Homo sapiens: one gene and its partners. The protein of the gene in region 4 interacts with the protein of the main gene of each other region in a pairwise test. Each region holds a gene or a part of one and is shown on either strand. Other genes may lie near its edges. The genes, in order: RNLS, EXOC6, LOXL4 and MAST1.

What was found.
Region 1: the proteins of MAST1 (region 4) and RNLS interact in a two-hybrid assay, tested with the Homo sapiens proteins (one study listed by BioGRID and IntAct).
Region 2: the proteins of MAST1 (region 4) and EXOC6 interact in a two-hybrid assay, tested with the Homo sapiens proteins (one study listed by BioGRID and IntAct).
Region 3: the proteins of MAST1 (region 4) and LOXL4 interact in a two-hybrid assay, tested with the Homo sapiens proteins (one study listed by BioGRID and IntAct).

What each region holds. Positions count from the first base shown.
Region 1 is NC_000010.11:88,572,586-88,580,662, forward strand, and holds part of RNLS (renalase isoform 1 precursor), read right to left. Parts: intron 477-8,077; coding exon 318-476; intron 1-317. UniProt on the Homo sapiens protein: Catalyzes the oxidation of the less abundant 1,2-dihydro-beta-NAD(P) and 1,6-dihydro-beta-NAD(P) to form beta-NAD(P)(+). The enzyme hormone is secreted by the kidney, and circulates in blood and modulates cardiac function and systemic blood pressure.
Region 2 is NC_000010.11:93,053,684-93,060,231, reverse strand, and holds the end of EXOC6 (exocyst complex component 6), read right to left. Parts: intron 3,309-6,548; coding exon 3,196-3,308; intron 2,010-3,195; coding exon 1,877-2,009; 3' UTR 742-1,876; downstream 1-741. UniProt on the Homo sapiens protein: Component of the exocyst complex involved in the docking of exocytic vesicles with fusion sites on the plasma membrane.
Region 3 is NC_000010.11:98,258,119-98,266,195, forward strand, and holds part of LOXL4 (lysyl oxidase homolog 4 precursor), read right to left. Parts: intron 7,259-8,077; exon of another isoform or gene 6,609-7,258; intron 4,934-6,608; 5' UTR 4,902-4,933; coding exon 4,625-4,901; intron 4,096-4,624; coding exon 3,917-4,095; intron 3,010-3,916; coding exon 2,804-3,009; intron 1,312-2,803; coding exon 1,273-1,311; intron 1,111-1,272; coding exon 891-1,110; intron 50-890; coding exon of another isoform or gene 47-49; coding exon 1-46. UniProt on the Homo sapiens protein: Catalyzes the oxidative deamination of lysine and hydroxylysine residues in collagen and elastin, resulting in the formation of covalent cross-linkages, and the stabilization of collagen and elastin fibers.
Region 4 is NC_000019.10:12,841,502-12,849,299, reverse strand, and holds part of MAST1 (microtubule-associated serine/threonine-protein kinase 1), read right to left. Parts: intron 5,772-7,798; coding exon 5,693-5,771; intron 2,011-5,692; coding exon 1,850-2,010; intron 1,689-1,849; coding exon 1,613-1,688; intron 1,453-1,612; coding exon 1,243-1,452; intron 1-1,242. UniProt on the Homo sapiens protein: Microtubule-associated protein essential for correct brain development. Appears to link the dystrophin/utrophin network with microtubule filaments via the syntrophins. Phosphorylation of DMD or UTRN may modulate their affinities for associated proteins.

The DNA of each region.
Region 1 (8,077 bases), on a different chromosome or scaffold from region 4:
AAATCTTTTCTCAAAAATGGCCACAAAAACTGCTCTTCCTTTAGGCAAAATCATTTCATATCCATCAAAAATACTGACGTGTTGAAGACATGGGCAATAAGAAAAGTGTTCAACTTTTAACCAGCTTTAAAAACATTCTATGGGTTTCACCTTGGCCTAGATTAATATCATGACGACGGCCGTAAGTATCAGTTTTTAAGACAGGCAAATCAATAGAGTCTATCACTTGTCCTTTGCGAAGAGAGTTAAACCAAATTCATGCTTTGTCAAAAGAAATCCCATTCCCTGAGGCAGGTAAATGGCAAAAGCAGACTCACAGGTGGTGATGTCACCTTGAAGCTGCAGAATCTCAGGAACTGGCATTGTGAGAACAATAAGATCAAACTGCTCAGGGGAGCCTGTTTGTTTGGATACTTCCCATTTGTCATCTCTTAGGTTGATCTGTGTCACACGATGTCTGAAGTAGACTTCTGCACCTGTTCCAAAAGCAAAATCATGTCCCCATTATCAGAATTGCATATATGAATAAAGGGGATGTGAGTAGTCACAAACTGAATCCATTCAAGTGAACAAAATGGCCAAGACTGTCTTCTACTGTCCTCCAGCTCTCTTCCTTTACTTTCTTTCTAATTTAGTGGGAATTCATCCCTACCTGGCATCCTTGGACTTCCCTATCAGTGCCTGCTCTGAATCAAAAACTACTCCTACAATTAGTGATAAAAATAAAAATAATAACTATAGCTACTTTTCATTAAGCAGCTACTATATGCCAGCTGCTTGGTACACATTATACTAATTTATCTCACAGACAAGGAAATAGATTGAGAAATAGCATGCCATGATTTAAAACTATAACCATCTGACTCTAAAGCTCATCATTTTTGCAGAACAAGTATACACTTCAGTAAACATGTGTGTTAGCAATGAAATAAGAAGAGCAATATTCTCTATTAAAGGAATTAATATTTCCCATTAAAGGACCTGAAAAAGGTTCTCTGTAAGGGAAATGCAAGTTCTCATCAATAGATCAATTGTCTTCATTAAGAAGAATCAGAATTTAGAAACATACTCTAGAGTACCCTCCCATAACATTTTCCTTCTTAGCACTTAACACAAGGATATTTTAATAATTATTTCTTTAATATTGTCTTCCCTTTTAATCTGTAAGGCCCATGAGCTACAAATTATACCTGTTTTATTTCTATGTATAGCATATAGTATACATAGCATAGAATTTATTAGTTAAGTATTTATTTAAAATAATGAATTATGAGGCCAGGCACGGTGGCTCACACCTGTAATCCCAGCACTTTGGGAGGCTGAAGTGGGTGGATCACTTGAGGTCAGGAGTTTGAGACCAGCCTGGCCAACATGGTGAAACCCCATCTCTACTAAAAATACAAAAACTAGCTGGGTATGGTAGTGCATGCCTGCAATCCCAGCTACTAAGCAGGCTAAGACACGAGAATCGCTTGAACTCGGGAGGCAGAGGTTGCAGTGAGCTGAAATCGCACCACTACCCTCCAGCCTAGGCAACATAACAAATAAAAAGAATGAATTATGAACCATAAACTGAAAGAAAGTACAATTGGGTCATTAAGTCTCCTTAGTAAACTAGTACTCACCTTCCAGTTTTCAAAAAATTTTGATTTACAAGCAAATCTACTTTTATTCAGCTTTGTGTATAGAAAAAGAAAGAAATGAAGATGGAATGAGGGAGGAAAAAAGCACACTGAAAGATCCTGTTCATCTTTACCTGGGAAATCTCACGTTCCTAGTCACTAAAAATCCAGCTAAAGTTCATCCCAAAGCTTCCTTTCTGTAGCCACTCCAGCTCAGTGTGATCCTTCCTCTCTATGATATTCTTCAACCATCACTGCCTTTAGTACTAATTTTGACATTGATTCAAAATATCTGCATGCTTTAGTTGTATCTTATCTATGTAATAATACTCAAGGCTCCTTCATGTCGGGTCTTCAGATCTCATACACTTTCATCTCTTTCATTGACCCTTAAATAATGCTACACCCTAGTAAGCACTCCAGTTTTTAAAAAATCAAATGTAAATGTTAGAAGAAACATAGTTCTAGCTAGCCCAAGAGATCAATCTCTGTTCAAGACAGTGTGCATCATTCTGTTCAAAGATTAGAGCAAGGGGCTTGTAAACAGTACTCCATCTTGCCTGAGGGCTTTTCTAAGGCCCCTGCTTGGGGAAGGTGCAAATAATTTGCACTTTCAACACATATCCACCATCTCCTTTATTCCAACAAGGGCAGCTCTGCTTCACTCTGTTTTTATTTATTTAGGATGCCTCACCCTACTTGCCTCACTTAGTCCATGGCCCTGTCCCAGACCTCAGCTAAGTTAACTGATTCTACGTTTTCTCATAATATTCCTTTGAAGAGAACAATATGCTGTTATTGTTGGTGGTATGAGTGTGTGTTTAAGGGGACTTAAGTTCACAGTCCTAGAAAATTCTTCATGCCCCAGATGAACGCCTTGAAAATGTATCCCAATGGCCACAAGGTGTTCTGCAAAGTATATATATATATATATATATATATATATATATATACACACACACACACACACACATATTATATATATATACTATATATATATGTGTGTGTATATATATATATATATATACACATATATATACACCAAGGTGTATATGTATATGTGTGTGTGTGTGTGTATATATATATATGTCAGTGGTTCTCTAAGTATGAACCCCAGACCAGCAGCACCTATGTACTAGAAAATGCACATTCCTGGGCCCCAACCCGACCATACTGAATAAGAAACTCTGGGAATTGAGCCTCGCAATCCATGTTTAACAAGCTCCCTTAGTCTTGTCATGATGCGCGCTAAAGTATGAGAACCACTGGGGTAGGTGGACACGCCCAAATCAAACACCACTGGCAAAACCACCCAAAAAGCAGCATTTATCAAGAGGTAGGAGAAATGGTATAGCCTCTCTTATTAACCAGAAAGGCTTCCTTTCCAACTGCTTGGAGCAAAGTTTTTGGGAAAGTGGCATTTCCTTGTGAAAGTAATTAATAACTTTCACAAAGACTATGTGTTTAAATCTATAAGCTCTGAAAAACCCAATTTTAAAATGGATAAATAAATAGTCTCAAGAGTTATGTCTGAGCTTAGTAAATTTGACCATGTCCCTCTCTTGCATAAAACCCTTCAATGGCTTCCCATCGCACTTAGAGTATAAAATCTTTAACATTGCTTACAAAGCCCTGTATAACCTGGCCCTGCCTTAGTCTTGAGCATCATCTTTTACCATTTTCTCCCTCACTCACTACCGTCCAGTCATAATGATCTTTTATTCCTTGAATGCACTAACCTCCTCCTACTGCTTCAAAACAGTTCCAATTTGATGTGTCCACTGCATTGAACTCTCATCATTCAGCTCTCAGCCTAATTCCCTCTTGCCCACCTTTCAGGTACCCATGAAAATATCAGTTCCTCAGGGATGCTTTCCCTAACACATCTCCCCCATCACTCCTCTAAAACCTACTGGGCTAGGTCCTTTTATTGTAAGTTCTCTCATAATGCTCTCACTCTTTCTTCTTAACATTTATCATGCATCTTTTCTTTGTATGTATAATTAGTTTAATGTCTTTTCTTCCCACTATACTCTACATTAACAGAGGCCAGGATCATGTCTCTTATTGACTTTTGTTTCCCCAGCACATAATATTTAATTAGAATAAAATGATCTTCAGATAGCTATAAAGATATCAGAAGTCTAAGAAGGTTTAAACATTTTACAAAGGCAAATGTGTTTCTGTTATATATTTATTCAATTTTATCCCTGGCCTTCCTCCATTTTAAGGAGAAAATCCAAGTTTATGTTTCTCCTATGATTTCCCACAAATAGGTTTTAGTGAGCAGCAGTCAGAACTGCTCAGGTGGGACCTGAAGTGATGTGAACCATCTCTAACTGACTACACAGCTTGAAGTAAATAGAAGAATGCTTAACCTGGTTTTCATGCCATCCTCTAGCTTCTCTAAAAAGGACATCGTTACGGATGAGTGCCAGGATCACCTGCTGGGAGAAATTTTGAGACAGAACCACCCAGACTCACTTCCCCTCTATCAATTTTAGAAAGAAAATAGGCACAAAAGTAAAAAGAGAGAGAATAATAAAAGTAAATATTACAATACAGAAGCCATCCTAGCTAATGGCATCTGCCACCTAAACCATTTTTTTCTAATAAATTGATCTTGTCAATTTTGACAGGTTACTTTGCAAATGTTGACTTTCTGGATCGCTAGCCAATGTCCTTTTTAGGTAGATGATAAAATAAAAACAAATAAATGCAGCAACAGCCCTCCCTATTGGTAGGACAAGCTAAATAAAAGCTGCTCACTCTGTGTCCTGGAAGCTAAATTCATCTTTTTTGAATAATTTAGTAACATGGGACCTTATTCAAAAGCAAAAGGACCTGGCCCATCATTTTCCATGTCATAGGCAGGAACCATCAGGTGACCAATTTCCCAGGTTGCATAAAGAACTAAGGTGGTATTACTCTTCAATATCCACTTCCCCCTATGTCAGGAATTAACTGATGAAAGAGGGAAACTAGGGGCACAGGGAACTATGAGGTTGTTCTATTGAACCATGTGTCTACTGACACGTAGCACCAGGTGGGATGGGTACAATCTTCATACTATAGGAAAATAATCAATAAGGAAAGAGAAGGCTCTACAAAATAGATGTTAAATTGGAGAGTATGAGCACCTCTCATTGCCCTCCATGAGAGACTTAATAGAAAAAAACAACATGATTAATTGCAAAGGCACTTCAGTTCTGTTACCAACTAGCCAAGCCACCTTAGACAAAGTACCTGAGTCTCATTCTTCGCATTAACAAATAGGGATGATGATTAACTCCCTTGAAAATTTACTGTGAGAATTAGAAACTACATACGTAAAGTACCTCAGGTAGTATTAGATAAATAGTCAGCACTTAATAACTGATAGCTAGAATCACTTTTGCTATTGTCAATTCTCACCCCAGCATAATGACAACTAGTATAAAAAAAGAACAAAAGAAAATCATGTTTCACTCACTCAAGAAGATTGTATTAATGGAGAAGGCAGGCAGTCAGTGAAATTGATGCCAATAAATACAGCTTTCTCTGCAATGAGGTTAATGTGAACACATCGGACAATAAATTAAAATAGAACATAAGGTCAAGAAGAAAGCATCTATTTCCTTTACCTTTTACTATTTGTTCTGGGAAATTGGTCTAGTTAAATATTGGCTTTAAAGGTTTGAACCTATTCTAAAGCATGCCTGATTAGGCATATCCCAGACAAATAATTGCCCTGGGAGTCTGGTCCCAATCTGAATGACCACTGGTTGGTCCATCAGATTGTGGGGTTTTAAACTCAACTAGATTCCAAAATATAGAGTATTTTTGAAAATAGTTGGCAATTTGATTTCTTAAAGTAAGGAATATATGAAGGTCAGCTTCATTCAAGTACAATATTTTTTAAACTAACATTTTTCAAGAGATTACTATGTGACTGGCTTACTACTTGCTTGAATTTGAGTGCATTATATCTTTCATTCCTCACAACACTTTGTAGCAAGAACTTCCATTACAATATTCTGTAGTAAGTACCCTCATTTTTGCATTTCATTACGCTCATTTTTTTCAATGAAAGAACTGAGGTACAGATTTTAAACTTTCCTAATATTACATGAACAGAAAGGGATGGTAGGACATTAACTGGAATCCAGGTCATTCTGATTTCAGGGACTGTCTTAGCTTATAGTGTGGAAAAACCAAAATGTTTTTGTGGACCATTTATAGAATAGAAAGGTTAAAGGGACTTAAAGAATGTTTAAAAGGGATATAATTATAAAATTAAAAATATTATAGATAGGGTCCAACAAATCCTATAGATAATAGATCGGGGTAGAGGAGAATCTCGAAGTATTACAAGAATAACATTAAATAGCATTAAAATAAACAAAGAAAAATTTATATAAACTCAAGTTAAATAGACCATGAACTTGATATAAAATAAATTTTTAACATTTATATCACTCTACCTACTATGTAGGAGGTACTATTAGTTTCTGAGTGAGGTACAAGGAATTAAAAATAATCTCTTCTCTGAAAAGCTTAAAAAGCAAAATTGGAAGTTAAAACGTATGTATTCCCCCAAACACATAACAAAATAAGGAGATAGATGCAATGTATTCAAAGATGTTTCTCTGCCAGGACATCAACTCCATGAAGGCAAGGACATTGGTTCTTGTATCATTAGTACCTAGAACAATGTTTGGCATTATGGTAAGTATTCAATGAATGTTTATTGAACAAAAGGATATGTGTATGTATGTATATATGCATGTGTAGGGGTGAAATTTCAGTAAAAATCAACTGACAAAAGGCATACTAATATGAGAAAAAGCATACAAATTTATTTAATCATAGTTTTGCATGACACTGAAACCTTCAGACTGAAGACCCAAAGATACAGGAGTCCATTTTTATGCTTAGATTCAACAAAGTATGGACAGCTCTGCAGCAATATGATTGGACAAAGGGTTATATCTATGGCTAACAAACTGGTAAAACCCACCAAGGCCTGTCTGTCTAGATTCTTCTTGTCCTCTCTGTGCAGCATTCTTTCTTTATGGTTATAGGTCATGACCCTCTCTGGAACTGTTGTGAGCTACAATCAAACACGGTAGGTCAGATAATTTCTTTATGGCCAGTTTTTACAAAGGAAGGCAGGGGAAAGCTAGAGTGATAGTTTTAGGTTTTATGGCTGGTTTGGGGGGAAAAGGGGTTCTTATTTCTACGACCTGCCTTGGGAAAAGAGATTCTATTTTCTAGGGCTAGCCTCAGGGATGAATGCAAGGCCAGAGATAGGAGGGCAGGAGAAGGTCAGAGAGAGCTACTTCTGAGGGCTCCATTTTGGGATATCATTTTCTAAGCTCCTGCACATGCATGCATGCACGCATATCAGTTAGTAAGTACCTGATGATTTCAATAGGTATACTCATCCAACCTGGGTCAGGGGAAAATCATGGTGGAAATGAGATTTTTTAAAGTGATATGGCCACACTATATGAAGCTGATAGTAACATTCTACAAAACGTCCAATAGTGTCACCATCTGTGATGGTCAATTTTATGTGTCAACTTGACTTGGCCATAGGATGCCTACATATTTGGTCAAACACTATTCTGGGTGTTTCTATGAGCACGTTTTTAGAAGAGATTAACATTTATTATCAGTAGATCAAGTAATGCAGATTGCCCTCCCTAATGTGGGTAGGCCTCATCCAATCAGTTGAAGGCCTACATAGGACAAACGCATTGATCCTCCTTCACATAAAGGAGAATTCTTCCTGCCTGAAAGCCTTTGAACTGGCTCATCAGCTTTTTTCCAGCCTTCAGAGTAGAACTGAAACATTGGCTCTTCCTGAGTCTTGAGCCTGCCAGCCTTTGGACTAGAAGTATACCACCAGCTTTCCTGGGTGTCTACCTTGCTGGATCACCCTGCAGATCTTGGGACTTACCAACCAACATAATCATGTGAGCCAATTCCTTATAATAAATCTCTCTCTTTATCCATACTCACATATACACATGCATGCACACATACATACACACACATACCCTATTGGTTCTGTTTCTCTGGAGTAGTCTAACATACCATCTATATACTGAATCTCGAATGGAGAAATGGTCTAAGCCAGAATGGTATTTATTATGTTCTCATGTTGTTTATTCAATCTTACTGACCTCTCTGATGCCCAGTGTCAAGGATTCTTGGGGTTCTCAATAAGTAATATTTGATGATAAAGATCAAAACAGTAATTATGCTGGAAATGGCTTATAAAAAAATTCTTAGCCTATATCCTTTCTCAGTTATCTCAACTTGGGTACTTAACTGAATTATGATTTATCAAGAAGCTTCATTCTCCTTTAAAAATAATCATCAATTATCCAAGAAAAATTCTATTTTCTTTTTTAAAAGGTCCATTTTCAAAACGCTCATAAAATATATAAGGAACAAATGAAAATCCT
Region 2 (6,548 bases), on a different chromosome or scaffold from region 4:
TCAGGTATCCTTCCAAAGATGGCAGTTCCACTACTGCCCTAGGCTTCATAAAGACGTCCTAAGCCTCCAGAAGCGGATACCCACGAGCACCTTTCCGGTCTCAAGGACCGAATTCATCCTTCCCTGCACATCCTTCCCTCCCTCCCCCGAGTTTGCCCGACGACTCTTGTCAATCTACATTGTTGCGTTTTGGGCTTTGTGCGTCCCATTCAAGGGTTCCAAATGCCTCAGGACTCACTCGTTCTTGTCCCTACAGTGCAACCTGGGGTGTGTGTGGAGGGGTGCAGGGTGTTTATATTATTGGTAAGAGTAAAGAGGTCCCACAGTGGTCTCCTCCAGGCAGTGCAAAGGCAGTATCTCTCTGAATCCCGGGACGTCTCAGCCAAAGCAGGGAAGACACCCCAAGTACGCTGGAAGGCTGGGTAAGGCGCGAAGGGCAGCCCCATTCCAGTCTTCAAAGAGAGCTAGCTGTTCACCGCTCCTCTCCTCCAGATTTCACCGTGCCTGAAGAACTACCATGCTTTTCATGTAATATTTTTAAAAACATTAAATACTTTGGATTAAGAGATGATCGAGAGAACAAGTGCGCATATGTATATATATGTGTGTGTGTGTGTGTGTGTATGTATATATACTGTTTTGGTGCCACTCCCATTCCAGTAACTAGGAAATAATATGCCTTTTCTCCAGGAAGCACTTGTTTTAAATCAGTAAGCTCTGAATAGACAAAATAGTAATGCATTTTCAACAACTTGCTCAATATTTTTAATATTTCATCACAAAATCCAGAGATGTACATATAATTCTTTACACTTATTTTACAGAATCAGGCATAGTTTCTTACAGGCCTAAATCCTGAAAAGGCAAAGGGAAGATTCAGCATAAATACAACAAAGGGAGAATAAAGACTGGATTTATATTGCCATTTGGACCACGGAAACATACACAAAGGAAAATGTACATTTGTTTTAGGTTTTCCAGAGTTCATTTGGTTTGGCTTGTTTCCACAATGAGGATAAAGTACTGAAATCTGCTATTTGAAGAAAGTAACCTGACCCCTGTGGTAACTTCTGTGTGCAGGAACCATCTACCCTCGCACAAGCTGCACCTGAAGTGGTTAGCCCCATTTAGTTCCTGTCCTCTCTTTTAACTGGAACCAAACCAAACCAAACAAATCCAGAATGGGGTCACCTACAAGCAATATAGTTAGAAATATTAACCCTGATGAACAGAAACAACACTGCATCTTTAGAAAATCCAAAACCTTTTGTTCATATTCAGAACGATTAAATTAAACCACCCAAGTAGAACAAATAATTCACATTCTTACTGAGTTAAATCAAGTTTGATTTCAGGCAGCTTTTAAGATTTGTCTATTTCCCCTTCAGAATTAGCAGAATTAGAAATTTTGGTCTGCTTAAATCACATTGAGGTGAAAATAAAAGCTAAAAGTCAGAAAATGGTAGTGAAATACTACCATATCAGACATGATTGAATTCCAAAGCCATATACTGATCAAAAAACAGATTATCATTCAAGTCTAAATAGAAAAAAATACTTATGAGTAGAGGCATATGTTTTTCAAATGTATTTGTAATCAATTTCATGTATAATTTGTGACAATTTATGTATTACACTTTTGCATTTTCCCCTAAAAGTGAAAAAATGGTCATTTTTTTCCATATATAAAATAGTATTCGATTATTTAAAAATCCATACAAATGATATTTATTACTATTTCTTGTTTAAGCCCTCATGTATCTTCTCTATTGTATTTTTGGATTCTGTAAACAAATTACTGTATCATGACCAATACTTGCTCAAGATCAACATTGAATCATGGATTTGGTGTCACTGAGTGCAAGCCATGTGAGGTCTACATGTGCTGGGACATACCATTCACCAAACTTCTCAGCTGTTTCACGACTGTCTCTATCAACTTCTGTTTGTCTCGATCATTCTTCCTGAACTGAGCAAATATATTGTTCTTTTTGCTAGTATCCTTCATCCTAGAAACATATGTGAATGAAGAAGCTTGGTAAAAGAAAATTAAAAGCTAAGCTGTCACAAGTAAAATATCTTGGCATGCTCTGAATTATCCCACACTAATCCTATGCTTGAAAAATATAGTTCAAAGAAAGTAGATACTAAATAAACATACAGATATAGTAACCATGCAAAAAATTAGAAGCTTTATTTTACATTCTATGTTAAGTGGTATTTTTGCATTAGTATGTACATCTAAAATATGCTAGGTTTACTACTATCATACTATTTTCTAATATTATTCCACAAAGTATGCTAAAATACATACCCTGTATAGACTCTGCTAATCATATTCATAGCAAGATAAGGTGAAAGGAAAATAACATTAGAAAATGTAAAATAGCGATGTTTTTGCCTCAGTTGCATTTCATGGCATTGTAAAATAAATTTACATTTATTTTAAACACTTCCTCTTGTCCTTTCAAATCAAATACACCACAAATATTTTGAAATATAGGAAAATAATAACAATTTTAATTTAAAATTGAAAATTTTAATAGTGATACTTTTTTATTTTTCTTATCCAGCAGCCCCCAGAATCACAGCAGATTCAGAGAGTCTCCCAATAGTGACATTTTAAATGAAATATGATTGAGTAAAGAAAAAGTCTGTCACATAATGAGAGGGAAAAGTTAACACCTAAATTTATGTTTAGTTGGACAAGATGCATCAGTAAATCCTATTACCTCAGTTTTTACTGTATTTTTTTTTTCAAATCACATATTTCTCTACCTGCAAAGAATCCAAGTCCATAATGCTAAGATTTAGGTAACACTGGTGGCAAACATTCCAATTCCTGGTCACATTTGACAAAATACCTTCTTTCCTGAGTTATAGACTTTTTTTTTTAAAGAAAGCTCCAATTGTCACATCCCCAGTAAACATATTTCTAAGGTCAATTAAGCTTGCAATTCAGGATACAAAAGGAAAGATGTTTTGTTCACATCAATATAAACAGCAGTTGCTTATGAAACTACACCAACTCTGAAGGGCAAGAAAGAAAAGCTTATTTTTTGGTCATTAAACTAGAGTGAGCTTTTAAGCTCCATCTAGACTTTTCTTTTTTGACAGAAATCTCTAGTTCTTCAGTTTATCACTGAATCAAAAGGTGCTAAAATGTTATACAAAAAAGTTTCAGAATATACTCACTTCTCCAAAAGAGTAAGGGCTGTGTTTGGATTCACCCGAAGGTACTTAGAAGCTGGCTGCCCATAATCAGCTAGGTAAGTAGACCAATCCCAAACCATAAACAGGTCAAGGAGCTGCGAAAGATGGGGGAAATGTTAAATCAACTTTTGATTATTTACCCAGTTAATACTTAAATTATATGCTATCCTTGGTCCATTTTAATATGGCTTGCTTCTTAGATGGAACAGAATACGGAAATTCATTTTTAAAACTTCATTAACTGTACTTTACAATCAAAATAGATCTTTTTACTTTGAAATTACTAAAAATGCCAGGGGTTGTTTTCTAGTAAAATACTTCATGTTTTCAAATAATTGTAAAATAATGAAAACAATGTTAATATAATATATATTAACCCTTGTACTGATGTATAGAAATTTTATCTTTATGCATTAGTCAGTACCCAGATTTAATTAATAAAGGTTGGTGCTACTAACCTGTATGAAGAATTTTAAAGAACTTAAATTGAACCTTTTTTTCTTAGAGGTAAGTATGTTTACCTTTCAAGGACGCTGTTTGCACCTAAGACTTTTTCCAAAGTAATTTAAACCAAAAGCTCAGATAATCTCAATTAAGTGCATTAAACAACCTCTGCTAGATTCTCTCTGGTGATAGATCCTCTGTAGTATTATGAAATGAGGGCTTCAGGATTCAGCCTGTTAACTCTAGGCTACCATTTTGTATAAACAAACAACAACAAAAAAGAAACCCTCTTGTTTCCCGTGGTGTCTTAAAATTGACTATTTACTTTATAATCTCCAGTTAGAATCATTGTCAAATATGGAAGTAATCTTTTAAAAGCAATGCCATGCCTAAACCTAAGCACCAAACTCTTTATCCAACTTTAAAACCCTAATCCCCTTTAAGCCATTTAAAACCAACTTCCTATCCCCATTTGAATTGTTTCAGAAAGCTAAATGCTTTACTTACTACCTTCCTTTAGTTTTTATATTCTTTCTTTTTGTTTTAACTCACTTTATAAGTAAGGGGTCTTACTGGTTTTGCTTTCAAATGGAGGAAACATTTGCATTTACTCATGGGATACAAGAGCCGACCACTGACTCTGAGAGGGATAAAACTCTGGGGTGATTAAAACCTCATAAAGAAAGGTCACCAGAAACTAGCTTTTCTTGATGAAGGTAAAGAACTTGCTTGACTATTTCCCCATCCAATTTACAGGTATTAATAGAGATTTTCTTGCAACAGGCAGAAAATTCTATAATGAAAATATTAACTATGGAAAGCCACTCTATTTTCTTTCGGACAAGATACCATTCTGGGCCATACCAACAGTTGAAACACTAGGATAGAAACTATACTGAGACAATGTTAAAGAATATACTGTCTGAAAAAGAAAAGGGAACTTATTTAAAGTTCTGTGTAATTTTTAACTGTTGTTTGGCCACATTTTTCCCTCCTTTCACAAAGAGGAAAAGTTACTTTCATACACTCAGATGGTAAGAGTGTAAATTAGTATAACGTCTCCGGAATGTGATTCTGCAATGTGTTTAAGAACCTTATAAAAGTGGCCATTCCCTTTGATTCAGCAATCCTACTTCTTGGAATGCAACTTCGAGAAACAGAAAAAAATTTATGCACAAAGATATTAATCTCAAAAATGTTATTTGTGTTATCAAAAACTGAAAATAGCCTAAATCTCAATATTAAGAGACTGGTTAAGTAGTGAGGTCTATCTGTATGATGACTATCATGTGGTTATTAAAATTAATGTTTACAAAGAATTTTAAATAACTTGGGATAATGTTTATGATAAATGTTGCTACTTAAGTTACATAAAAACCCATCCAAAAAGACTGGAAGAAAATTTGCAAAAACGTTAAGGATGCCGGTTATAAGCTGGGCATGGTGGTGTGTTCCTGTAGTCCCAGCTACTCTGGAGACTGAGGCGGGAGGATCACTTGAGCCCAGGAGTTAAGAGTCCACCCTGGGCAACATAATGAGACTTCACCTCTAAAATAGTAATTTTTAAAAAAGAATGATTGTCATTTATGTGGTGGGATTAAGGTTAACTGTTATTTTCTTTATTTTTGTAATACTCTACAATGGATATGTGTTAATACTATAGTTATAAATAAGGTTTATATATTTATATATTAAAATAAATTTCAATAATGAACACCCCTCACAGAGTTGTCAACAGAAGCCTCATTTTCAAGGATTCTTCTTTCAGGTATATGTGTGTATTTGCACAACTGTGCATGTGCAATGCACAGTGTCAGCAGAAAGCAACCTCTTAAGGCTCTTTTTCTCTAGGCTGATTTACCCCCAAGTGGGAAAGGAGGAGCCGACTTAATGAATGAAAAACCCGCACCAACTCCAACTGTGAATACAGAATTGATTCTTTTACAGCACAAGACCAGACTGTCCTGGATAAAGAAACACTATGCTTACAATGTTCACATATGGTCAGATACTCATATGCAAATCTCTTATGTGCAAATCCGCAGAAATTACAGGAACCACAAAATTAAACCTACCTGCCCATATGTAGACAAATCTATATGCTTTCATATTGACATTAATCTTTGTATAAATATTTATAGAAATACATATTGTACACAGTTAATTTACAGGTATCTGTAGAAATCTGCACGAATTTGCAAATTAATGGTTAAGGAATTAATTGCCAAAGCAGACAAAAAAGCCAATGATCTACATAAGATTCATTTATTTATTCAACATATATTGACTCCCCACCTATCACGTGCTAGATACTGTGCTAGGTACCAGAGATACAGCATTGGAACAAGACAAAATCTCTTTCCTCAAGGAGCTTACATTGTAAGATAGGAATAAAGCAGTAATCTTTTGATGTTAACATGGAAGAAATTATAAAGAAAAGCTATTCACACAGAATCCTAGTAATTTAAACTACAGTAACACATGAGGAAGCTACTATCACTTTAATATAGAATAAAATAGAAACCATTAACTTATATAGAAGCTGGTGACTGCCTGCTCATTCCGCTCAGTCTATGAATCCAATGACTGAAGATCCAATGGCTGAGACATTTCAGTGTTTGTGTCCCAAAGACTACACATGGACATGGGCAGAGAGCAAAGATGGAGCCAGCAAGCATGTTGATCTCATATTCTCATTTATCATTTTCATGTGTGTAAGGATTTTTCAAATGCATTGTACTGCTGGAACAAGTAAATAGAAACAAACTTCAAAACTGGGCAGGCAAGCTCATAAAGTGTGTCTAGCACAGTCTAACCACTCAGTAGATATTCAGGAAATAACTGATTAAATGATGATGCCAGACCATTATTCCAAGTTTCCTTGGGAGCTT
Region 3 (8,077 bases), on a different chromosome or scaffold from region 4:
GGCCCTCGCCCACCTGGGCCCCGGAGCGCAGGCGCACCCTCGGCTCCTGCTGGGAGAAACCTGCTTCAGGGACGGCTGAGGAGGAGGCACCAGCAGGGGCTGAGCCCCCACAGCGGGATCCCCAACGGGGCTCCTTCAAGTTCCATGGCGGTGGCCAGAGCCAAGGATGGGGAGTTCCAGTCCTGCTTCTGACTTCCCATAGCTGTCACCCTGAATAAGCTGTTTTTCTTGATCTCCATTTCTTCAATGACCAATCACCCCCACAGCCTCATCAAGGATGCCGTCTCAAGTGTGGCGCTAAGGCATCTGTACCACCTCACAAGGCCATCTCAGTGTGGCACTAAGGTGTCTGTACCACCTCACGAGGCTATCTCAGTGTGGCACTAAGGTATCTGTACCACCTCACGAGGCCATCTCAGTGTGGCACTAAGGTGTCTGTACCACCTCACGAGGCCATCTCAGTGTGGCGCTGAGGCATCTGTACCACCTCACGGCATCTGTACCACCTCATGAGGGCATCTCAGTTTGGCACTGAGGCGTCTCTACCACCTCATAAGCACTTGCTCATCTCCTCTTTAAAACAAAGGAGCAGGCTCAGGAGCAGGCTCAGGATCAGTACCAGCCCTCAGTGGAATGTAGTTAGGATTTAATTACTGTTTTTACGGTCACCTTCTATTCAAGGCGGGTGATGTCAGCTTTCCATTTATGGTAGGGCTATAAATGATCCCTTTTAAATACATTCCAAGGTTCTACAGTTCTGTGATTCACTCTCCTCCTCCCAGTCTGGTTCCTCTCTCCTGCGTGTCCTGGACCTCCCCGCACCCCCCACCAGGCAGTGTCCCGCCCGTGCCTCCAAGCTGTGGTGTGAGTGCAGGATGCCCAGGGCTCACCTCTGCCCAGGACCCTTTGCGTTGTGGCTTTGTCTTCGGTGGGCGGAAGTGAGGCCCTGCCACACAGCTGACCACAGCGTGCATGCCACCTGGGCAGGCTGGCCGCAGCTTGCCCCGGGCTGGAGCCACCTGCACCTGGCAGTTGGCCATGTGGGGCTCTGTCCCCAGGCAGGTGACCTGGTGGATCCAGAAGGAGTTCTTATTCGTCAGGCTCTTCAGCCTAGAGGACAAGGGAGACTGAGGGTGGAGGAAGGGCTGAGGGAAGAGCTTCAGGACTAAGGGAGGCCAAGGTAGAAAGGAGGGAAGGGGAGGGTAGGGGATGGGATAGAGGCCCTTCATGCCACACCCCTTTGCCTCCTCCCTCTAGGGTGCTGCTCCTCACCTAGACTTAGGGTCCCTCATCTTCAGATCCCAGACTTTCCTGTTATGGGAGAAAACAGATAGGAGGTGGAAGGGGTGTGGAAGTCCCACCCCCTGCCACCTGGTTCCTCATAGTTGTCCTTAAGTTTGCACAGGACTTTACATTTTGTAAACTTATTCACTAATCTGATTTCAATGCTGAGCTTCACAGCAGCCCTGACGGGGTGGCCACCTCACAAATAACCATTTTACAAGGAAGGCAAGCAAGGTCCCTCGGCCAGTCCTAGAGTGGGGGCAGGTGGATCAGGCTTGCCCTCTCCGAAGTCCAGAGGAAGGGGAGCATTTAGGGAGGGCCCAAGAGAAGGGGCCCTCTGGGGACAGGTGGGAGGTGAAGGCCTTGCTGGTGGGGGCGGCCCGCCCAGAGACACCCAGGCTACCATCAGGCCTGCCCTCCTCATGGGTGGCAGGCAAGTCAGCGAGACCCAGGTGTGCAATTACCAGGCAGGGGGAGTCAGGCTGCATCCCAGGATCCCCAAGGATGGAGCCAGAGGCTGACCAGCACCCCTGTTTCCTCAGAACGGGGTTCCTCTAAGTCACTGCAACAAGGGCCTTCTAACCCTTTAGGGAAGCAGGATCAAACTGATTGGGGTGGCAGATGACTCAGACGTACTACGGGAGACTTCTCACTTGATGGGAAACACACAAGTCCTCCCTGACACGGATCTGGCAGAACCATGACTGTGGCTGTCGTTTACTGGTTGATGCAATCAGTTGTGACAGTTCCGCCTTGTTTCTGACAGAATATTTTTATGTCTCCTCTCTCCAGGTGCCCCACCCCACGCCTCACTTACACACAACCCAGTCACAGCCTGGCTTGATCAGAGCTGAGGAAATTCAGGAGGGAAGCGTTGGGATATTCGCAGTGGAATTGAGGATGGAGGCTCAGAGGCCCTCCCCAAAGCCCTAACGCCAGTCACTGGCTGAGCTGAGGCCAGAACAGTTTGTCTAAACTCTACACGTGGGTGTCACTGCAAGTATCTGCAGGAAAGTCTAGTGTTTTAACCAAGGACACGCGGTTTTATGTTCAACTGTTTTCACCGGGGGCGGGGGGTGGGGGGGCGTTCTGTACCTAGTTAATTCTGTTTACATAATTCGAGAGTGCAGTGTTTGTTTTCTGACTGTTTCTAGGTATTTCCCAGGATCCTGAAGGTCCTCCTTATTCACTTTCCTGTTTATTATTCTGAGGCACCCGTGAAGCAAGAAATCTGGGCACATTCCTCAGTAGGGCCTGTTTTCTCTCCCCCAATCCCAACACCTGCTGGATGTCCTGCCACAGACAACACCACTGCCAGTCAGTACTCACTGAACTCTGCGAGGTCCCACATGCCACACACATCACACACTCGCCTGTGTGCATACTTACTTGCCCCTCACATGAGTCCACACTCAGACTCATGCACACACCCTACATCACATGCACGCACATGAACACACACTCAGTCCCTGCCCCACAACCCTGCCTCCTGTGGGGCCTACGCCAGCCGCCCTCCTACCTGTAGTAGTGGCTGTCGACAGGCACCTCGCTGGGGAAGCCCAGCATCCCGCACACCACCCTGCTGTTGTTCATGGTCCAGCCCTGGTCACACACCTGCCGCCAGTGGCCCTCATACTTCACCTCCACGGCTCCCTCGGTCACTGGGCTATGCTGCTTGGCACTGGCAAGGATGGGCTTGAGCCGCACCTCCTCCAGCCGCCGGCCCTGCGGGGTGCACAGTCACCTGTGGGCCTCGGGGCTCCTGCTCCTCCAGTGGAGCCTGCTGCAGATCTTCATGCAGAAAGGCTGGGGCTTGGAGCTTTTCGAGACCATCCCACCCAGCCCGGTCATTGAACAGGCCAGGAAACTGAGGCCCAGAGAAGGGGAGGCATTATCAAAGGCCACAGAGTAAGTGCAAGGCAGAACCTCAGCTTGTCTAAGCCCTTTCCCTCAGTTCCTCGAATTTGTCAAATTGGAGAGAACTAGGCAGATCTGGCCCCCGCTGGGATCAGGATGGGAGCCCTTGGAGTTTGGGAGGCTTTTGCTGGGCATGGAAGGGCCTTCTCTGTACCACCCTGAGAGAGCTGAGATGGGCATAGACCAGCTGCTTGAGACCACAGCAGGATCCTATGGCCCACAAGAACCCCCAACCCTAGCCCTGGGATGACTTAGACCAGTACAGAGTCCCCATCACAACACGCTGCATTCAGTGGCCATGGCCAGCTGTCCTGAGGCTGGAGGCTGCCTGGCAGCAGAGCCCTGCCCTGCCCGCTCCTGTTGTTTGGCTTGGGCTGTTTTTAGCTCAGGGTTGTTTGTGCTGGGAAGAGGCAGCAATTGTGGCCAGGCCTCATGGATGAGGGAGCCCCTTACCCAATGCTGTCTCCCTTACGGGAGCAGCTTCTGCGATTCCCAGTGGGGTCAGCTCTGGTCCTCTGGCCTGCCTTGCCTCAGGCTGGGGCCCTCTATTTATGCACCTGCTGCAGGGCACACTCAGGAGTCGGCGGCCTGGGGACGATGCTCAGTGCAGACTGCACCCTTTCCCCTCGCTTATCCTCTAGGCCCGTCTTCTGGGAGGCTCTCTGTTCTCTGACCCAGCCCTTGGCTCAGACCAGAGCCTGAACAGCCTCCTCACCTGGGGCCCAAGGGCATTGGAGACAGTTTCAGAAAGGTAGCCACGATGGCGCCGGGGGTGGCATATCACCCCTACGTCTTCTGAGTGACTGCAGTCACTGACTCCCCAGCCATTAGACCCGCACTGGTCCAAGGAGCTCTCTGTGCCCACACAGCGCACATTGTCCAGCCAGATGGGTCCTGTGGAGTGGAGGTGATGCTCAAAGATGGCACAGAGAGGCAGGTCACAGGCTCTGCCTCCTGCATAGGACCCCACACTTACCAAGTCACCTCTTCCAAACCCTGGGAGAAAGTGGCAGGGAGGAGGAAGTTTGGGTCTCCTGGGGAATAAGTATTTATAACCCTGCCTGCTACCTCCTTTGGGTGCTGGCTCTTAGAGAATCTGTTTTTGGAAAATGCCGGGTAGCTCTAGGAATCAGACCTACCTGTTTGCCCATTTTTTCATTCAACATTCTCTAAGCACCCACTGTGTGCCAATTGCTATGTTCAAGGAACTTAGAGTTTAGTGGTGGTGACGGCGGTGGCCTTATTACAAGAGAGAATGGGAGGGTGGGAGTAGGGGCCATGTGCAGCTGAGGCACTCAGGAAATGCCGTGTGGAGGAGGTCACATGAGCAGGGTATTAAAGGATGGGTGGGTGTCAGTGAGCCCAGCCCAAGAAGACTGTTACCATCTCCTTGCCATCCCACTAGGTGGCACCAGTCACTCACCCTCCCCTTGGCCGTACTTGGCACTGTGGGCCCAGGTCAAGGCAGCTTCGAAGCCCAGCTGGCGGCAAGCCACTGTGGCCTCCTGGATAGCAAAGTTGTCATCACACACGGTGCCCCACTGGCCCTGGTGCAGCACCTCCAGGCGGCCCTCCTCTGGCTTGCTCTCTGGGCCCACCAGCCGGAGCTTAGTGGTGCCCAGTGACTGTGGCCTGCTGGGAGGGGGCTGGCCTAGCAGCAGCAGGAACAGAAAGAGGGTGGCTGGTGGGGACCACGCCATGGTGACTTCAAGGACAGCTGAGGCCAAGATACCTGAGGAATGAGTAAACATGACAGTGATCACCACCTCTACCCAGATCTCAGACCTCTGCAGCAATTTGGCAGCTCCTGGCAAGACAAAGGAAAGAAAACCCCCCTCAAATGTGTGTGTGTGTGCACGCGCACACACACACACAGTGGCATTAATTGAGTCTGGGCCAGGTTAGCTGATTTGGTTCAAATCCACCACATTCGCCATGACCTTGAGGAAGTTTAAACTTAACCTCACTGAGTCTCAGTCTCCTCATCTGTAAAATGGGGATAGTAATCTCCATCTCACGGTGTTGTTGAGTGTTAAATAAAACACCGTATGGAAAGTGCTTAGCAAAGTCCTAGCATTGGTGAGTACACAATAAACAGCAGCTCTTATACACCTAAAATCTTATGTGTAGGCAGACGAGGTGGTCCACCATTTGAGTCACGGGGATGCCCCCAGGGTGCCCTCAGGTCAAGACTATCTACCCCAGGGACACTGCCACCACCTTCTGATGTTCCTAGCACCCTAATCAAATGTGTGAAGTGCCGCCTTCACCTAGAAGGCACATGGAAGGCTGGAGCAGAAAGGGCTATTAGATGGGCATCAAGGACTCCACCACTCATTGGCTGCATGGCTTGGGCAAGTCTCTTCAACTCTCTAGGTCCTGACTCTTTCTTTCTTTTTTCTTTCTTTCTTTCTTTTTTTTTTTTTTTTCGAGACAGAGTCTCTCTCTGTCGCCCAGGCTGGACTGCAGTGCTGCAATCTCAGCTCACTGCAACCTCCGCCTCCCAGGTTTAAGCAATTCTCTGCCTCATCCTCCTGAGTAGCTGGGATTACAGGCGCCCACCACCACGCCCAGCTAATTTTTTTGTATCTGTAGTAGAGACGGGGTTTCACCATCTTGGCCACACTGGTCTTGAACTCCTGACCTCGTGATCCATCCGCCTTGGCCTCCCAAAGTGCTGGGATTACAGGTGTGAGCCACTGTGCCCGGCCCTGACTCTTTATTTCTAAAGTGAGGAGATGGAACCACATATCATCTGGATCCCTCCTGCAGCTTGGATACCCTGTGATAGCCTCACATCCATCTAGGCGTATGATTCATGTAGATTCAATACACATTTTTGGAATACTTGCTTCAGGCCAGGTGCTGGGACACAGAAATTAAGACATCGAACACCCTCCCTACCTTCATGAAGCTCAAGCAAGAAGAATTAGGGAAGCCTTTCAAAGAAGGGACACTTAACCTGAGCCTTATTGGGCAAATAAGATTCTCCTGGGTGAGAAAAGGGGCATTCGAGATACAGAGAAGAGGATTAGGAAAGAGGGAAAGAGGTGAGTTTGTGCAAGAGCAGGAAGTGCCCTTCTCTTACCCCCAGACCACAGTGTGGGGGTTTGGAGGGGAAAGAGATGGAGGGACGAGCTGGGGCCAATGATCAAGGGCCATGTGTACTACACAGAGGGTTTGCCTTCATCCTGTAGGAAGCGAGGGGCCAGGGGAGGGTTTCAGGCGGTAAACAGAGAGGGCCCCTGTCTCCAGGAGGCTGTAATCAGACGTTCTTTGGGTCCTTAGAGAGGGGATGAGGCTGGGGGCAGGTCCTCTCCCCCTCACACAGCAGCCTTGGTCCCGGGACCAGCAGGTGGAGAAGGGCATAGAGGAGAGAGTCTCAGCTGGTTAGAGCTGTCAGAGACCTCTGGAGCCACCGAAGCTGAAGCTCCTCCACCCCAAGGCTCTGCTGCCGATGGAAGCTAAGGCCGACCTGGAACAGGGGATGGAGAAGATGGGCTAAGAAAGCTCGTTCTGATGAGACCTGCCTCTTCCACGGCCATGGCTCCTCTTGGGGAATCATGCAGCTCATCCGCTTGAGTGGGGAGGCTCTCACAGGCCCCTGCCACTCTCACTTCCATGGATGGCATCTGCCCTACTCCCTCTCAACGGCCTTGGCCAGCAGGGCTGGGTGGAGTGGGCTCCTAAAAGTGCACTAAACAAGTTCTGGGAATGAAGCTCCATGGGAGTGGGGATGTGTTGTGTCCCCAGTTCCCAAAATAGTGTCAGGTGTGTAGGTGGCACTCATTCATATCTGTGGTTGCATGGATGGGAGGTGGCAGCACAGTGCTTGAGAGCACAGGCTGGGCGGTCAGACTGCTGGGGTTCGAATCCTGCCTCCACCAGTTCATTTGGAAGTGATCTTGGGCCAGCGATTTAGTTTCTCCCTGCCTCAGTGTCTCCCTCTGTAAAGTGGGGATAATAATAGTAACTACCTCATAGGATTTTTGTAAAGATTAAGTGAAGAAACATTAAATCCTTAGAAGAGCAAGCCTTCAGTAACAATGAACTATTATTATTATTATTATTATTATTATTATTATTATTATTATTATTTTTGAGACAGATTTTTGCTCTTGTCACCCAGGCTGGAGTGCAATGGCACAAACTCGACTCACTGCAACCTCCGCCTCCAGGGTTCAAGTGATTATCTTGCCTTAGCCTCCCAAGTAGCTGGGATTACAGGCATGCGCCAACATGCCCAGCTAATTTATCTGTATTTTTAGTAGAGACAGGGTTTCACCACATCAGTTCTTGAACTCCTGACCTCAGGTGATCCACCCGCCTTGGCCTCCCAAAGTGACGGGATTACCAGCGTGAGCCACTACATCGGCCAACAATGAACTATTATTAACAGCTACTGTGACAGCGACGATAGAACCGTTGGTCTAGATTGGTCCCACCTCCTCTCTGTACAAAGAAGGAAATGGAGGCCACGTCCGATCTCAACTGCAAGTCCTTGGTACTCCTCTTTGCAGCCTTCTCTAGATTTGCCCCTTTTCCCTCCACCCACACTGCAGAGCCTAGATGCTCCCCTCTCCACTCCCTGAGGCTGTGCAGGGGCTGCCTTCCCATTCTCACCTCTGCAGCTCTCCCCCTCTGACCCCTCCCACGCTTCCTTTCCAGACTGAAACACTGTCTTCTGCATGTCACTCAGAGGCTTGTGGGGGCTCCCAGCTGGCTGTCCCATGAGCAGAGTGCTCTCCATTGTTTCCCATTCCCTCCTCCGTGCTCCCTGGAGTAGGAGGTAGACAGCCAGGGACTGAGCCAAACCACTCCCCAGATGGCAAGAAAGGATGGGACAGATCGGCCTCAGGTCCCTCAGCTATTAGGA
Region 4 (7,798 bases):
CCATCTCAGCCTCCTAAGTAGCTAGCTGGGACTACAGGTGCATGCCACTGCAAAGGGACATTCAAGCATCAATTTACCCAACATTTATTGAGTACCTACTGTGTGCTGGGTATTGTTCCAAACAGCAGGGACACAGCAGTGGACAGAACAGACAACTCCACCCCCCCACCCTCACCAACTATGGGGCTGACATTGGAGAAGGATAGACATGAAATAAAATAAGCAAAAATACACAGTATGATGGATGGTGCTGAGTGTCAAGGAGAAACTGAGGAGAAAGTGGGTGATAAATGTGAGTAGAGTTTAATATTTTATTTTATTTCATTTATTTATTTATTTTTGAGACAGAGTTTCACTCTTGTTGCTCAGACTGGAGTGCAATGGTGTGATCTCGGCTCACCGCAACCTCCGACTCCCAGGTTCAAGCGATTCTCCCGCCTCTGCCTCCCAAGTAGTTGGGATTACAGGCGCCCACCACCACGCCCAGCTAATTTTTGTATTTTTAGTAGAGACGGGGTTTCGCCATGTTGGCCAGGCTGGTCTCGAACTCCTGACCTCAGGTGATCCACTTGCCTCAGCCTCCCAGAGTGCTGGGATTACAGGCCTGAGCCACCGCACCCGGCTAAGTTTAATATTTTATTTTATTTTATTTTATTTACTATTATTATTTTTTGAGACGGAGTCTCGCTCTGTCGCCCAGGCTGGAGTACAGCGGCGCAATCTCGGCTCACTGCAAGCTCCGCCTCCCGGGTTTACGCCATTCTCCTGCCTCAGCCTCCCGAGTAGCTGGGACTACAGGCGTCCGCCACCACGCCCGGCTAATTTTGTGTGTGTGTGTGTTTTTAGTAGAGACGGGGTGTCACCGTGTTAGCCAGGATGGTCTCGATCTCTTGACCTCGTGATCCGCCCCCCTCGGCCTCCCAAAGTGCTGGGATTACAGGCCTGAGCCACCGAGCCCGGCCGAGTTTAATATTTTAAATGACTGGGGACCGCCTAAGAAGCCACCTGAAAAGGTGACATTTGAGTAAAGACCTAAGGGAAATGAGCGAGGTGAAATTCCTGCCTCTTCAGTCGGTCAGACCTAGGGAAGGGACCACTTCCACCCCTGAGTCCTCAGCTCCACGCCAGTGCCTGGAACGTGGTAGGAGCTCCCTGAATGTATGTGGGGTGAAGAAAGGGGTGCATTGGGCACAATCTGGCGGTGCTGAGCCTGAGATCAGCCCGGCCTCCGCGTGCACTCACGTCTTGAAGGAGCTTCTCCAGGTTCTCCTGCAATTCATAGAAGTAGACCGTGGTGATGAGGCCGTCACGGGACTTGGTCAGGCAGTCCCGGGCCAGCTCGATGATCTGGTGGTGGATGAAGCTGAGCACGCCATCGGCCAGAGGCAGAACGCTGTCGGGTTCGTAGGCGCGGGTAAAGTCGCGCAGCTTCTCCTCCATCTGCGCAGTGGCCTGCGGGAGGGACGGAGGAGGGGCGCGGGGCTGTGCCCGAAGGCTGCGGCCGCCAGGAGCCTGCGCTGCGCACCGAGGCCGCCAGGGGGCGCGCGGGGATAAGGCGAGCGAGAGTGCAGGCCGCCTGGTCACCCCGTGACCGCCTCGGGTCCCACCTCACCTTCGGGAACCTCTCCTTGTAGACGTGATTCATCATCACGATCTCGTTGTCGTAGGAGGAGGGGGAGCGCCCGGGGCTGCGGGGAGAGAAGCCCATTTTGTCGAGTCCTCTGCCTCCAAGCCCGCAGAGAGCCCCCGCCCCAAGATGTAACCCTTTTATTCGCGGGGACAGGGGTCTCTCTAAGCACAAGTCCTAAGACCACTAGCTTGGTACGAAGGAGGAGGGATGCCTGCCCACCTGAGGCTCCGTGAGCGGGGCCGCACGGCTGGGGAGCGACGGCCACCATCCTCGTCTGTGATGCTCTCGGTGCTCCCGAAGTGTTTGGAGAGGAAGTGGAGCTCGTCCACCGTGGGCTGGTAGGGCAGCTGGTGAAGGCGCTCCTGGGAGGAGCAGGAGGACTGGGGACAGGGGCAGGGCCGGGGTCAGAGCCACCATGGGCCCCCCAACAGCTCAGGACCCTGAGCTGGGACTCCCAAAGCCGATGGGGTCACTGGGCAAGGCCAGGATCAGGACCTGATTTACGATCCTTGGATCCTAGGATCTTGGCTGGGACTCTTGGCCACAGACAGGTGGACAGGGACAGACAGGGGTGGAGACAGTGAGTCTGTTAAAGCTTGGGTCAAGTCATGAGCCTCCTCTGTTCAGAACCCTTGGTGGCTCCCACCTTACTCAGGGTGAACACCCAAGTCCTTCCCCAGTTATACAAGGTCCTGCCTCATCCTGCCCTGGGTCCCTGCCGTGGATTTTTCTCACTCTCCTGCTTACTTCCTCTGCTCCAGCTACAGTGGCCTTCTTTTTTTTTTTTTTTTTTTTTTTTGAGATGGAGTTTCGTTCTTGTTGCCTAGTTTGGAGTGTGATCTCAGCTCACTGCAACCTCCGCCTCCCGCGTTCAAGCGATTCTCCTGACTCAGCCTCCTAAGTAGCTGGGATTACAGGTGCCTGTCACCACGCCTGGCTAATTTTTTGTATTTTTAGTAGAGACAGTGTTTTACCATGTTGGCCAGGCTGGTCTTGAACTCCTGACATCAGGTGATCCACCTGCCTCTGCCTCCCAAAGTGCTGAGATTACAGGCACAAGCCACCGCACCCAGCCTAGTGGCCTCCTTGATGGTCCTTGGACAAGCCAGGCAAGCTCCTTCCTCAGGGCCTTTGCATTAGCTATTCTTTCTGCTTGGAACACATCTACTATGGATCCCTCCTTCTCATCCTTCAAATTTTTGCTTCAATGTCACCCCTCGGGAAGACCTCCTCTGAATACACACCCATTATTCCCTATCCCTACTCTATCTTGTTTCCTCTTGCTTTATTATCATTATTATTTTAGAGAAGGGTCTCCACTGAATATGGTGACTCACACCTGTAATCTCAGCACTTTGGGAGGCGAAGGCGGGAGGATCATTTGAGCCCAGGAGTTTGAGACCAGCCTGGGCAACATAGTGAAACTGTGTCTCTATTTATTAAAATTATTTAAAGTTAAAAAGAGAGAGAGACACGGTCTCCTTGTGTCACCCAGGCTAGAGGGATGTAGTACAATCATGGCTCACGGAAGCCTTGAACTCCTGGGCTAAAGTAATCTTCCCCCCTCTGCCTTCTGTGTAGCTGGGACTACACCATGCTTGGCTAATTCTTTTTTGCAGAGACAGGGTCTCTCTATGTTGCCCAGGCTGGCTTCCAACTCCTGGCTTCAAGCAATACTCCCACTTTGGCCTCTCAAAGTTCTGGGACTGAGGGCAGGGCTCGGTGGCTCACGCCTGTAATCCCAGCACTTTGGGAGGCTGAGGCGGGCAGAAAAACTGAGGTCAGGAGTTCTAGACCAGCCTGGCCAACAGGGTGAAACCCCGTCTCTACTAAAAATATAAAAAAATTAGCCAGGCATGGTGGTGGGCACCTGTAATCCCAGCTACTCGGGAGGCTGAGGCAGGAGAATTGCTTGAACCCAGGAGATGGAGGTTGCAGTGAGCCGGCACGGTGCCATTGCACTCCAGGCCTGGGCGACAGAGTGAGACTCCATCTCAAAAAAAAAAAAAAAAAAAAATTGCTGGGTCACAGGCATGAGCCACTATGCCTGGCTCTCCTCTTGCTTTATTTTATTTTTTTTTATTTCGAGACAGGGTGTTTCTCTCTCCCCCAGGCTGGAGTGCAGTGGCTCGACCTCCACTCACTGCAACCCCCACCTCCTGGGCTCGAGCAATCTTTCCATCTCAGCCTCCTGAGTAGCTGGGACTTCAGGCACAAGCCATCACACCTGGCTAATTTTTTTTTTTTTTTTTTTTTTTGTAGAAACAGGGTTTCATCACGTTGCTCAGGTTGGTCTCAAACTCCTGGGCTCAAGCAATCCTCCCACCTCAACCTCCCGTAGTGTTGGGAATACAGGTGTGAGCCACCATGCCTGGTCATATAGCTTTCACCCAGGCTGGAGTGCAGTGGTGCAGTCTTGGCTCACTGCAACCTCCAGTTCTCAGGTTCAAGCAATTCTCCCTGCCTCAGCCTCCTGAGTAGCTGGGATTACAGGCATCCATGACCACGCCTGGCTCATTTTTGTATTTTTACTAGAGACAGGGTTTCACCATGTTGGCCAGGCTGGTCTCGAACTCCTGACCTCAAATGATCCACCCGCTTCAGCCTCCCAAAATGCTAGGATTATAGGCATGAGCCACCGCGCCCGGCCAGAATGATATTTTTAAACATCACATTGCTCACTCCTCTGGTTAAAATTCCCCACCCCATCCATCTCTTTTATTTTTTTAATTAGTGTGCATTATCTATAGCCTACATAATCACAATTTCAAATGGTTCAAACTGAAATTTTAGTACAATTTAATATAAAGAAATAAAACCATTCCATGGCTTCCCCACTGGATTTAGAATAAAATCTCCCTTGCTGCCCTGGCTGACAAGGTTCCAGCCTGATCAAGGTCACTGCCTGCATCATCTCTATTCCTCCCCCGCATCCCAAATTTTCAGCCCCACAAAGCTACTTTCAACTTTTCAAATGCTGCAAGTTCTGTGGCCTCTAGAGGTTTGCACATGCTCTTCCCCTTCCTGGAACACTCTTCTCCCTTCTCTTCCATCTGCCAAACTCCTGCTGGTCTGTTGTCTTGGTTTCAATGTCACCTCCTCCAGGAAGCCTTCCTTGACAACCCCCCAATCTGAGTCACATGCCTCTCCCCTATCACCTCACCTTGTGCTACTTGCATCAAAGTTCTGACCATTCTATTTTGTGAATGCCTTCTTACTGGCTTGTCTTCCCCCATGAGGGCTGCGTGAATATTTACACTCTGGCCCAGCTTGCAGAACCCGCCTACCACATGACAATCTCATGACAAATGTCTGCTGAACATCATGCCAATGGCTGGATAAGGGAACTATGGGCATGGATAGAAAAGGGAGCAGATGAAGGGACTTTGGGTGTTCCAAGGGGTGAGCAAGTGGGCTCTGGGTGAAAGCTGTGGCCTGGCCCAGCCCAGCTGCTGATATCAGAGTAAATGGCTTAACTCACAGAGCCTTATGTCACCAGCTGTAAATGAGTGAGTCAGAAATGAGTAGGAAGGACCCTCCCAGAAATGTGTTGAGGGCAGAGCATTGGGCTCTGAGTGGGGCGGACCCATAACTCTTTAATAGATGGACAAGTGAACACCTTTGAAGAATGGGGAAACCCAAACTGTCTTTTTTTGCTTTTTTCTTTTGAGACAGGGTCTCACTCTGTCATCCAGACTGGAATGCTGCAGTGCGATCTCAGCTCAACTGTAGCCTATACCTCCCAGACTCCAGCGATCCTCCCGTCTCAGCCTCCCAAATAGTGGGGACCACAGGTGTGCACCACCACGCCCAGATAATTTTTAATTTTTTGTAGGGACAAGGGTCTCCCTATGTTGCCCAGACTGGTCTTGAACTCCTAGGCTCAAGCAATCCTTCTGTCTTGGCCTCCCAAAGTACTGGGATTACAGGCTTGAGTCACTGAGCCTGGCCCTAAACTGTCATCAAGCCCAGCCTGGACTGCTGGCCTGGGTGTGGGTCTTCAGGCTGGAGGGCCCCTGAATTCCTTACCCACCGGCCCACCCACCTACTTTCCACACTCACCGAGACGGTGGAACTGGGCGTGTTGGTGCCATAGCCAGATGAAGGGAGCGAGGCCAGAGACCACCGGCGTCCGTCCGCCCTGGAACCCAGCCAAGGTGCTCAGAGGCCACAAGGCCCCAGCGGTCCCCCAACTCCTCAGGGTGTGGGTGAAGCCACTGGCCAGGGCCAGGGTGGGGGTTGGGGGAATATATCTGCACTCTAAGATTCCTCAAGGCCCTCAGAATCAAGGGGATAAAGAGGGACTCTTCCAGGCAGGCACCGGGAATTGGAGGGAGGATCCGTCTCCACTCTCCTCCCCACGGTCCCCTCTCTTATCATTCAGAGTGGACACCGAGAACTGGAAAAGCCCCCACCCAGTGAAGCCTTTCCAGAGAGATTCTAGAAATTTCCCCCAAGTGAACACTCTCCATGAGAAAGCTCTGAGGGAGACCCTTGGATCTTCTCAGAGAAAAAAGACCCGTCCCACCCCCCAACATGTTCTGACATAGAATATTGTGTCCTTATGCTCTCGTGCACACAGACACAGTCACTGTTGCAGCCAAATCCATTAATGTTGGTGTGACTATCAGGTCAGGCTCACATACTGGCAGTGCACACATTTACACTTCACACACACGAAGACACACACTCACACATGACTCCTCAACACAGACACCCACACGTATTGACTATCCCATCCATGGACCCAAATATCACACTCTCACACACTAATGCACAATCACGCGTGCAAGACCAGACATGCACTCACCTATAGACACATGTGCTTCCACTCAGTACTCACACTCGGACACACAGACTCACCCAAACATACTCCACACTTCCACATTCACACAGATGCACGTTCCAGACACCCACGCTCACTACCACACATTGAAACTTGCACACAGCGACACACTCATTCACACTCGCACGCAGATGCACACACACAGGGACACACATCGGCGCGTGCTCATGTGAGTGCACAACACACATTAGCATGTGCATGTGTAAGCGTGTGGCTGTGAGACAGTAAACTGGACGGGCGCGGTGGCTCATGCCTGTAATCCTAGCATTTTGGGAGGCCGAGGCGGGTGGATCACCTGAGGTCAGAAGTTCGAGACCAGCATGACCAACCTGGTGAAACCCCATCTCTACTAAAAATACAAAAATTAGCCGGGCGTGGTGGCAGGCGCCTGTAATCCCAGCTACTTGGGAAGCTGAGGCAGGAGAATCGCTTGAACCCAGAAGGCGGAAATTGCAGTGAGCCGAGATCCCGCCATTGCACTCCAGCCTGGGCAACAGAGCGAGACTCTGTCTCAAGAAAAGAAAAAAAAAAGAGAGAGAGAGAGAGAGACAGTAAACACTGTGACTCTGTGTTTACTATCTCACAGCCACACACTCACACACGCTTACACCCACACACAGATTGCACGCTCACCTGGAGACATACCTGACTTGCTCCTCTCACATATTCACAGACACTTACAATCCTACAGACACATGTTCACACGTTCACATTCGCAGACTCGTGCCATTGCATAGGCACGTAATCCCTCACACAGTGACAATCACACACACACACCAGCACACTTTGCACAGTTACAAGGACACACACACACCCCATTTATTGGACTCCTCCCTTCCTTCTTCCTCCCAGCAGTCCCCTCGCTCAGTCCTCCCCGCTTGCGGATAAACATGTGAGACCCTATCCCAGAGCCTTGTCCTGGCTCTCTATTGCCCTCAGCTAAATTCCATGGTCAATAGGCGGTTCCCCCACTTTCCCAAGGGAGCTGTCTGTCTTCACAGTCTCCTTTGACTCTCACAACACAGCCTTCATCAGCCTTTGCACTGATCCCCATTCTCTGGCCTGCCTGCCCTATTCGACTCAGAGGGTAGAGACAGGACGTCATTGACCCCATACGCCCAGCTCCTAAGAACATAGCAGGTGTTTAGACACCATTTTTAGAATGAATAGAGTTCAAAGAAAAAGAGACAGGCCCAAACTCCCAGAAACGTTTCTCCAGAAAACATCAGAGAAACCTCTCTGCCTCCCCCAGTTTCACCAAAGGCCCATAGAAAATTCATTTAAGGACACCCCAGAAACCCTAAGAGACCCTTGGAAAGAAA